Homo sapiens: one gene and its partners. The protein of the gene in region 1 interacts with the protein of each later gene in a biochemical or structural test. Each region holds a gene or a part of one and is shown in the gene's direction. Other genes may lie near its edges.

Region 1 (4,158 bases):
GTGAAGGAGCAAGTGAAGCTCTGGGGTTGGGAGCAAAATAACTGACAGTAGCAGCCAATTTAAGGAGGCAGGAAATTACCCTTCTTCCTGGAGAGTCCCCCCACAGGGACCTGCGGTTTGCTTGTTTCTACTGAAAGCCCCACCTCTCCTTTCTGCAGTCTTTTTCTCAAGAAGTGCAGGCAAGTAGTAAGGAAAGGGATGTGGGAATAATGAAGCCCAACATTAAGTGACTTCCTAAAGAGGCGATGTGGGGGTGGATGAGACTTTCCGAAGAACTCAAGCAAGGCCCTACTCAGGAATTGTTGCGGGCGTGAGAACGCCTGGGACACTGGCTTCCGCCTTTCTATTGGACCCGCCCCCCCCCGACCTGGAAGTAGAAGGGAGTGGGCGGGACTAGTGCTAAAACTCCAGAGGGCTTCAAGCAATTCTAACTCTTCTTCCTTATTCAACATTTATTTGTTGACGTCAATAAATAAACTGGGAAGCCGAGGTGAACCACCAGCGACACTGAGGTGTCCACATAAGCGTCACAGCTGCAAGCCCACCCGGCGCCGTGACCAGTTCCTCGCCCTCTGCAGATGCCCAAACCTGGAAGTCTCCTGGGCTTCGGTTTACCAGCAGGAGCAAGGAGAGGAAAGGGTCAGAGATGCGTACAGTTTGGTATCTTGAGGGTCGCGCGCATTGCGCCACACCACCCAATCAGAAGAGGCTCCGGAAAAATAATCCCGCAGAAACGACCCCGCCTCCTCAGCGGACCAACCTGGGAAAAAAAAAAAAAAAAAATTCCCCTGGCAGCTTCGCCAATTGGAAAAATCCGGACGATCACGGATGACCAATCGGAACGGCAAATGACGATTCAAGTTGTCCAATAAGAGAAAAAGGGCGGGTTCAAGGGCCTCTGTTGCTGGGTAGAAGTTGAGGCGTTGAGGAAAAAGGAGGGCCCGGATTACAGTATTTCTTCGTTCTGGGGAGCCCTTTTGCTTCCTAGCCAGAAAAACAATTGCTACTAGGCTTACATGTTGCAACACATTCTCTAATGACTTTTTTTTTGTCGTTACTGCTGCAAGCACAGACAGTAGGGAAAAGAGGCTAGCGACCCCTAAAACGCCACAGCAAATGGAAGTCAGACGGAAGTAAGGGTGGTGGGAGGGGCATGGCATCGGGGAGCTCCGGGCGGCTGCGCAGAACTCCCCGGCTGGAAGTACTGAAAGACCGGCGCGCACACGCTTCCGTGCTACGAGGCACTTGAGCTGCAGCCAGCCTTGCCCGTCTTGGACTCCACTGCGGCTGCGCGATAAAAGCACCGGCGGCGATTGGCCCGGGGGCGCCAGAGGGCGGGAGGAAGCGGGAGGAACTCCGTCGTCCTCCGCGCGCGCCTGCCCGCGGCTGGGGAACCAAGGGCCTGGAGGGGAAACAGCTCCCTGCTGCGTTGTTTTGGGCTCCGTGAGCCGAAAGGGGGAGGGGAGACGAAGGAGAAGCAAACACTGCGCAGCGGGACCGTGCGCGGCCTCCGCTCCTGCGTGCGTGCGCTCGCTCGCGCGGGCTCAGTGCTGGCGCGTGAGGCGGAGGCGGGCGGCGGCGGCGGCGCCTGCGCGGTCGGACTCGGTCGACGGTTCGCAGGGGAGGAGGCGGCGGGAGGCGGAGGAGGCGGCGGCGGCGATGGAGGTGAAGCGGCTGAAAGTGACCGAGCTGCGGTCGGAGCTGCAGCGGCGGGGCCTGGACTCGCGCGGCCTCAAGGTGGATCTGGCGCAGCGGCTGCAGGAGGCGCTGGACGCCGAGATGCTCGAGGACGAGGCCGGCGGCGGCGGGGCCGGGCCCGGCGGGGCCTGCAAGGCGGAGCCTCGGCCTGTGGCCGCGTCGGGCGGCGGCCCGGGCGGGGACGAGGAGGAGGACGAAGAGGAGGAGGAGGAGGACGAGGAGGCGCTGCTTGAGGACGAGGACGAGGAGCCACCCCCTGCTCAAGCCTTGGGTCAGGCCGCGCAGCCGCCGCCGGAGCCCCCGGAGGCGGCAGCCATGGAGGCCGCGGCCGAGCCAGATGCTTCCGAGAAGCCGGCGGAGGCCACGGCCGGGTCAGGCGGGGTAAATGGTGGCGAAGAGCAGGGCCTCGGCAAGAGGGAGGAAGACGAACCCGAGGAGCGGAGCGGGGACGAGACGCCGGGATCCGAGGTGCCGGGTGACAAGGCCGCCGAGGAACAGGGTGAGGAGCTGGCAGCCGAGCCCGGCTCCAACCTGCCGGCTGCGCCCCTGATCTAGCACCCCGCCCTGCACCGCAGGGTCCGAGTCCTTGTTCTCGCTTGCCTCAAAGTGCCATTTGATGGAACTCCTTTCATTCTCTACCCACCTTTCTGAGGGGTTAGGCCGCCTCTCGTGGCCCTACTCTTTGCAGGAGGAAGGTTCCTGCCTAACTTGGTTCCTTGGTGATAGTGGATGGCAGTGAGTGATTTTGCATGCGAACTACTTGTGAGCTACCTGTGGAACAGTCTCCCACGGTGCTTGTTATATTTTTCTTAGCTGAGAAAGTGCTAAGCAATTGGGGATTACACGGAGAACTAGGCCCACAGTTAGAGGGTCAGGTCTTTGGGCTACCTGACCTAACTTTTTCGCCGTAAAAATGTTAAGCAAAAATCGAAGTCCGTCAAAGTCCGTTCCATTAAAAGCATGTTACCAGAGCTTGAGCCACAGAGAATCTGAAAATCCAACCTTGCTCCTCTTTGAGCTGTAAGGGAGAGCCTCTAGTGTAACAGTGTCGAGTTTAATAGTTAACCAGTGAAGAGAAAAATCTTAATCTAGTTCATTTAGAGTTAGTTAACGTTACTTGGCTAGGGTTTTTATCTTGCTTGGATTATGATTAAATTTTAATTGTCCCACTGAGTCCGTGGATAGGCATATTTGTAGATTTGCTGAACACCTGGTGCTAGTCTTTTACGTTTCAGGTCCCTCGGTTCCTGAATGGTAATGACTGAGGTGCTGTTGGGTCCGTTGAGTAACCTTGTGGAAGAGGTGTGTTGTAGAATCGCCCCAGGGAGTTAGTGACCTTTCTCCTTTCTTTTGAAGTGATTGGATGGTTAGAACTGATCCATAACAGTGTGTGTCCGAGTAGGGAGGATAAGTCTTACTATAAAGTGGGTGGCCTCAGTTCTTTTGTTAGTAATATTTTTAGGCCACTATGGAGAGTCATGGTATAATCGGAACCCATTGTACAACAATCACATGCAACTTGCAGATTGTTTGTCCTGTGTCCCGGAGCAAAAATCCCATTACATAACCTTTGACTTATGTATATCCCAAAGAGCAGATAAAAAAATAATTGAAGGATAGGCTGGGGGTGGTGGCTCACGCCTGTAATCCTGGCACTTTGGGAGGCCAGGCGGGTGGATCACCTGAGGTCAGGAGTTTGAGACCAGCCTGGTCAACATGGTGAAACCCCTGTCTCTAGTAAAAATACAAAATATTAGCCGGGCGTGATGGCGGGTGCCGGTAATCCCAGCTTCTTGGGAGGCTGAGGCGGGAGAATGGCTTGAACCCGGGAGGCGGAGGTTGCGGTGAGCTGAGATCGCGCCACTACACTCCAGCCTGGGCGACAGAACGAGACTCTGTCTCAAAAAAATATATATTGAAGGATAAAAGACTGCTTTAAAGAAATTATTATTAAAAACCTTCCTAGTGTTGCAAAATACAGAAGCCTAGGGAAAAACTCCAAGTTTTTTCCTCTTGCAGAGAAGTTGCTAAATATACAACAACACCTTTCTGCCCCAAATGTGCAGTCTAGATGCGGTATTATTTATGGATCTCTTGTGACTTAGTGGTTTGCTCTTGCAACTTTCAGTAGAAGTCCCTGATAAAAATACAGCTGTGTATAATGCACTTGAGTCCATTTGCCACATGAATAAAGCCATGGATGGCTGTGTATTTCAGTGCAGGAAAGGGAAATAAAAGAAATTGAGGCTTCTCTGTATCATGAAGGTGTGGAAAAGTGTTACAAAATATGTACTAACTGCCTACCTTAAATCTAGATCTGACAAGAGTCAAAATTAAATTAACCTTTGAGGTTTTCTTAGAGACCTAGAGGATATTTTTTATGTCATATTGATGGGGAAATCTGCAAGTTTGACCTGATTTAAGTGGATAAATTTAGAATGCAAAAATTGTCCAATTTTT
Region 2 (3,500 bases), on another chromosome or scaffold:
ATGTACCATATAATTTTTTAATAAAACGAGATTGCCCAGTGGGAAGTGGGATTGAGGGGGACACAGATAGGGCTTCATCAAGAAGTTATAAAATCAAAACACAAAACGCTTTATAGCAAACGGGGCACAGGAGTACACCAAGGCTCCAAGTTTCACTTCCATCTTGAGAATCTGACAGGTGCACCTGTCTGTTTCTCCGGAGCTCTGTTAAGGCAGGTTTGAGGAGGTCTCTTCCCTTTGTTGTCATAGGGAAAAGTAGATTTGGCGCTGATGTTGAGATCGACAACCACAACAAAAGACCTTCACATGTTTGTCTTTCCTTTTGTCTGCAGGGGGTGCAGCTTTTATTTTCCCAAATACTTCAGTATATCCTGAAGCTACGCAAAGAATTACAACTAGGCCAGGTACGAAAACACCCCTGTGTGATCTCTTCATTGAGAGACATCCCAGATGTCCTGCTGAGATCCGTGCCCTAAGTCACGTGATACAAAGAGAGCTGATCCCGGAGCTGAAGCCAGTCCCAGACAGTCTTATTCTGCCTCTGTTGATTTGGAGACTAAATCCACTCAAACCATTTCATTCAAAGACCACACTAAAGGAATTAAGAGCAGATTAGCCCTTTAACTAGCTTTTCAGAAAGACAGATGGGCAAAGAAGGCATCCTGGATGCCTGGCAGTTAGGAATAGGCCGACTTTTGAACTAACAGAAGGATCTGTCCCTCCTCGGGGGAAGAGCACAAAACAAGGACACTCCCCAGATTCACAGTGACCGATTATCAGTATGTCACAAGAAGCCAGTCTTGCAGAGCAGAAGCATGCAACCAGTAGTATTTACATCTGAATCTTACTGCCTGTCCTCCAAATGATTTAATTAGGTAATAAATTTACATGCCATTCATGCAAAAATAAACATCTATCAAGTGCCCATTAGTGCCAAGCGTGGTGTTAGACTCTGGGAATATATAGATGAACCAGGCTTCAGTAAGCTTCCTGTCTTCAGAAAGTTTACTTCTTCATTCAGCTTGGTTTGTTCATTTGCTGAGTGCCTCCTCTGTGCCAGCCACGGATGGTATGATGGTGAACAAACCGAAATGTTTTGCCTCCAGTTCTAGATGTTTCAGTAGAGTGACCTAGAGCCAGAGAGACACATATGTACACATAAATGTTTTCCCTAATGTGATAGATTTTATGGTAGAGGAACCACTTCTAGCAATACAGGGCGTAGGAGCAGGGGTGGGGAGGAACTCAATCCCCCATGAAAGGCATAAAGATGCTTTCCAGAGGAATGGCCACATGGCAAAGGGGAATTAGATGTTTGCCAGACGAATAATGAGCAGGGAGAGAGGGCATTTCCCAGAAGGGTATAGCTTGCCTTTAGCATTTGTCCTCTCCCTGGGACTTACATCAGCCCGATAAGCTAGGTATCATTGTACCAGCCTCACAGCTGATGACATTGTGTTCAGGGTGGTGGGATGGTTTCTCCATATTCATACATGCTTCCAGAATTCATGTTAAACTCTATCACATATCCGGAATACACAAGTCTCAGTTCGAACTGGTTCAAGATCTAGGCTTGGCAACTACTCTTTCTTTCTAATGAGAAAGACTGGGGGCCCAGGGAGCTAAAGAGAATGAATGAGGAAGCTTCTCAGGCTGTTCAAATACTGACACTGCCCTGGTTACTGCCTAGTGACTTCAGGCTGGCAATTTTCTCTTCTCTAACGTCAGAGAAAAAGTTTACTGTCTTGCTCCTGGGAAGCATGATGGAAAGGCTTAGCAGCTAAGGGGTACTAAGAGGTAGTAAGTCATCTCTGTCATGTAAAAGATTTCACAGGCCATTGAAACATGGGCAAGACCCAGTGCCTAGAGTCTGCAAGATTGGTCCTAAAGACATCCACCACGTGTATTGCGAGTGGAAAATAGAAATTCATGTTTGACTCAAGCTTTAGAGATTTTGTAATTCTGTGAGCATTTAAAAAATATTTCCATATAAACTAAAAAAATAAAAACTATTTCCAAAACATTTGGCTAGGGTTTTAAAAATTTTTTTACTTTTTAATTTTGTATTTGTTTGTTTATGTTAAGACATCTCATAGGTGCCTCTGACTGAGTTGCAAAGCCAGGGGTTGTGAGCTAGTATTATAAACTGTGTTAAAAGATCACAACACTGGCCAAATTCATTGGCACAATCTCTCTGTCAGACAAGCCAGCTGACTGATGCTACCTGGTTAAGACAGTGGGTCCTGGAGCTGCTTTGTTTTCACATTTTAGGATATGGTGGATTTGGAAGGTATGGCCCATCCAGGTGGATGGAGAAGAGGGTGACTGTGAGGATGTTGGTTGGGACTCCCTCTCTGCCCAACCCAGGGAAGGCAAGGGTGGCAAACTCAGACACCTCCCATGCCGCTCTGATGGTGGTCTTCCATGGGCCCATAATTTGAGCGTGACCTGGGAGAGAGCACACTTCCACAGCTCCACTACTAGTCAAGTATGTTTTCGCGACTCAGTTTGTACCTGAAATAACCTGTTTTGACCACTGCTACTGTGATTATGAGAACCAATACAAATATTGGTATCTGACCTGTAAAGAATTTAAAGCAGACTGAACAAGCCAGAGGACTATTTACTGTAGGCCCTATTCAGGGACTTGAACTTGGAGATAAGAACTAGTTATACACCTCGGGTCATCCATTGCTAAGCGATCAACCTTAAAGGACTGCTCCTGTGGAGATAAAAGCTGTGAACCTGCAACTGGAGAATGAACGTCGTGATGGCTGAGGGGGAAGAGCTTTTGCATCACTAACTTTCAGAGCTGAACGAGCTCCAGAGGGAGGTCACTGGGAATCTGACGATATCCCTGTGGTCAGTGGGTACCTGACTACTTTCAGAAAGGTGATTGTTGACTGTTTCTTTGAAGGTCCTTGGGGATACAGACCCAAATCCCTGTCTCCTCCACTCTTGGTTTGCTGTGCCATGATCTTCATTTCCATACCCTTTGTCTAATCCCACATCCGAGGGAACCGAACTCTGGTCAGCGTTATTGTGCTGACCATGAAGCAAGCCAGGCTCCTAGGTAACAACTCTACTTAGACCAGAATCTGTCTCTTCTCTGCATGGTGGCCGTTTCATTATAGAGTCCCTGATAGAGGAGACAGTGGTGTTCAGGGTTTACTGGTTAAATTAGACAGCATTCCGCACCCTTTCTGCAGAGACTCCTACACATGTGTGTTGTCCTGCTGCATCCACCTTCCCAGCACTTCCTCACCACCCTTCCCTCCTTCCCTTCCCACTGTGAGTCACCCATCCCTGGGTTACTGCCCCAACCTACCTTTTCTTTTCTTTTATCTTCTTTTCTCTTCTTTTTTTTTTTTTTTTTTTTTTGAGATGGAGTCTCACTCTGTTGCCAGGCTGAAGTGCAGTGGTGCAATCTCGGCTCACCACAACCTCTGCCTCCCGAGTTCAAGTGATTCTTCTGCCTCAGCCTCCCGAGTAGCTGGGGC
Region 3 (3,500 bases), on another chromosome or scaffold:
AGATTTTAGAATATGGATTCCTTCCTATTAAGCCTTAGGTCTTTTGGTATTTTGGTTATGTGGTAATTTTGCCAGAGATGAATTTCAACTAATGAAAGAGGGATACTTTCTGGTGACTTTACACTTATGGTGTAATGTCTTCAAGTCAGTTAACTTCACATATCTAACACAGTGCTGCTGTCCAATAGACCTTTTTGCAGTGATGAAAATGTTCTCTGTGTTGCCCATTATAGTAGCCATTAGTCACGTGTAGCTCTTGAGCACTTGAAAAAGGGCAAATGCAACTGTGGAACTGAGTTTTTAACTTAATGTAATTTAAATTTAAATAGCTGCAGGTGACTGGTAACTGCCATGCTGGGCAGCATAGAGCTGACATTTATGTTTTTCCTTTTTAGGTACATGGTGATCCCTGTTTTTGGTTTTACTGTCTCTTGAATTTAAGTCCATCTGAATGTTGGTTTTAGCAATGACGTGAGAACTTCGGAGCTTGCTTCCTCATGGACGACTACTCAGCTGATAAGGAAACACAGCTAAACTTGACTATTTATAACTGTATTTATACAGTAATAAGCCTATCTTTGGATGGCAGAGAGTATATTTATAGTGAAATATTTTGGGGAAAAGTTACTGAGAAGTTGTCTTTTTGAACAGGAATATATTAAATATAGCATGATGCTATAATTTTATTCTGTCCTTCATATGTAACATGCTTTAGTACATGGATGATTCTTTTTTTATATGAGTTATTTGTAGCTGCCTAATATTTCTTGAAAGAGTGAGCATTTCTTTTGTACCCTCGGAAAGTTTCATGCTAGTGCGAAACGCATTGCTATTGTTCTTTCAGAGCCGGGGCCATCCAGTCTTGGCAGCATGCTCATGCCTGTCCAGGAGACTGCCTGGGAAGAGCTCATCCGCACTGGCCAGATGACACCTTTTGGTACCCAGATCCCTCAGAAACAGGAGAAAAAGCCCAGAAAAATCATGCTTAATGAAGCATCAGGCTTCGAAAAGTATTTGGCAGATCAAGCAAAACTGTCTTTTGAAAGGAAGAAGCAAGGTTGTAATAAAAGAGCAGCTAGAAAAGCTCCAGCCCCAGTCACGCCTCCAGCCCCAGTGCAAAATAAAAACAAACCAAACAAGAAAGCCAGAGTTCTGTCCAAAAAAGAGGAGCGTTTGAAAAAGCACATCAAGAAACTCCAGAAGAGGGCTTTGCAGTTCCAGGGGAAAGTGGGATTGCCAAAGGCAAGGAGACCTTGGGAGTCAGACATGAGGCCAGAGGCAGAGGGAGACTCTGAGGGTGAAGAGTCTGAGTATTTCCCCACAGAGGAGGAGGAAGAGGAGGAAGATGACGAGGTGGAGGGGGCAGAGGCGGACCTGTCTGGAGATGGTACTGACTATGAGCTGAAGCCTCTGCCCAAGGGCGGGAAACGGCAGAAGAAAGTGCCAGTGCAGGAGATTGATGATGACTTTTTCCCAAGTTCTGGGGAAGAAGCTGAAGCTGCTTCTGTAGGAGAAGGAGGAGGAGGAGGTCGGAAAGTGGGAAGATACCGAGATGATGGAGATGAAGATTATTATAAGCAGCGGTTAAGGTCGGTCTGTGGGGATTATAAATACATTGTACTGTTTGCTTTATCTTAGGTGACAGGTTTATTAATATGTAAGCATTCTAGATCCAGCTTAATATATTAGACCCCCCCGATTATACAGAGGTTGGATTTCTGCAGCCTTAACCTGCTAGAAGCAGTGGGGCCCCTGAGTCCTTAATGATGCTGGCCCCAAATGCATGTACTTCTAGGTCTTTAGTTGGATTTGGAGGCAAGTCTAAGATGAAAAACTTAAGGGAAGGCTGGGGCAAGAGGCATACAGAGGGCTGAGTGTGAGCTGTGTCGCCTTTATACCGACAGTCACCCTAGAATGAGTATCAGGAAAAAGAAAAGGGTGAATTAATGCATACTGGATAGGGGTTTCTGTTTTCCCTTTTGAAGCAGGAAAGTAATTTTAGAGAACTTTTCTTCAAAAAAGAGCTGAAACTTAAGCTTTGGCATAGAAAGAATAAGCTTGCTTTTGTAAATCCTTCCTTTGTCTTGAGAAAATAGTCATCTGCATAATTATAAGCCACCATCATGCAAAAAGTGTACTTTGTATGCACAGCATACCTTTCTTTTCACTGTTGTTTTTTATGTTAGAGACTGACTTTGGCTTTTAGCTCCATGACATTGTCATTGTATAAAGCAAGCACCATAAAAGGGAAGGTGAACATGTGAAACATGAAGTCTGAATTGCATATTGCCACACGTTTTCTGAGAGCCAGGAAAAATAATCTGTATTGCAGGCCTCCCCATGGTGGCCCACTGAACACTGTGCTACTGCCGCGCATTTCAAGTCTCCTTGACTTAGAGCTCACTTAGCTCTAAGGAAGTCAAAGGGAAAAAGGAACCTTATTACTTTTAAAATACTTGATAGTGGGATGGCTTTTTCCCAATCCTCAACAGTTTTTTCTTATTTCTCAAGGTGAAGAGACCTAGTTTGTTGTATTTATTGGCCTTTGTGAGTGAAGGTTGACCTGGTGTTTTTTCTTGTTACTTAGAACTGCTCATTAACCCCCGTCCAGACACTACAGACATTCCATAACCTTTCCGAAATAGATGTGTCAATTCTTTTAAACAGTAATTTGAGGACCTGTGACTTAAATCCTGTTCTTTAGAGTTGCGGCACTCACATTCTAGTAGCACCTTATGTAGTAATGCACAGATGAGGGCTGGCTTATATTTGTCATCCCTCAGCACAGCTTTCGTTTCTGTGCACGTTTATTACCTGTGAAGTTGTTTGAGGAATGTTGCCCAGTACTCTTGAACAGTGAGCGGTGTCAGACTTTTTCTTAACTACTGCAAGGAATTAATAAAAGTGTTAATCTCAACATATTGATTATAAATGGAGCAATATATATTTTTCCAATTAAATTGGGTCAATATTAAATATGTTTAAAATATATCAGTATTTTGATCAAGAGCAATTTATTTTGATTGAATTTTAAATGTGGGTTTAGTTAATTTGATGGCAATAAGTTTTTCTTAATAATGTTAAGATTGTAAAACAATTTATTATTTCCAGAGCCAATATTTTGCTAAAGCTACAGTGAAATCTCAAATGAATTTCAGAAATATCAATAACTCTTAATTGCCACCAAAATACGATAGCTCTTAACATTTTATAGCTACAGTTATTAAGGCTGTTAAACTGCAGATATCCACATTGAAATATTTGTTATTACATCTCCTTTGGTGCTGTTTGGTTTGGGGGATGAAAGAAAATAAAATGCTCAGGATTGAGAAGCATATTAGAACTGCCAGTCTCTCTATATTTTGTTACTCATTGCTGATCTTTGTAGACTAATTGAAATGGTAATGCTATTCCCTTGAGAAACAGAAAGACCTTTAGGGTTGCTTGTCTTAGCAGTGGTTTGACGATGGATGATTAGAATAAAGTCATAGAGTTTACAA

Evidence for each region.
Region 2: the proteins of HNRNPUL2 (region 1) and ERG form a complex in vitro, tested with the Homo sapiens proteins (one large-scale study listed by BioGRID).
Region 3: the proteins of HNRNPUL2 (region 1) and ERCC6 form a complex in vitro, tested with the Homo sapiens proteins (one large-scale study listed by BioGRID).

What each region holds. Positions count from the first base shown.
Region 1 is NC_000011.10:62,724,658-62,728,815, reverse strand, and holds the start of HNRNPUL2 (heterogeneous nuclear ribonucleoprotein U-like protein 2), read left to right. Parts: upstream 1-1,358; 5' UTR 1,359-1,659; coding exon 1,660-2,197; intron 2,198-4,158. Other genes in the region: TTC9C (tetratricopeptide repeat protein 9C), read right to left, coding at 655-682.
Region 2 is NC_000021.9:38,397,478-38,400,977, reverse strand, and holds part of ERG (transcriptional regulator ERG), read left to right. Parts: intron 1-332; coding exon 333-404; coding exon of another isoform or gene 405-616; exon of another isoform or gene 617-906; intron 907-3,500. UniProt on the Homo sapiens protein: Transcriptional regulator. May participate in transcriptional regulation through the recruitment of SETDB1 histone methyltransferase and subsequent modification of local chromatin structure.
Region 3 is NC_000010.11:49,522,122-49,525,621, reverse strand, and holds part of ERCC6 (DNA excision repair protein ERCC-6), read left to right. Parts: intron 1-844; coding exon 845-1,589; intron 1,590-3,500. UniProt on the Homo sapiens protein: Involved in repair of DNA damage following UV irradiation, acting either in the absence of ERCC6 or synergistically with ERCC6. Involved in the regulation of gene expression.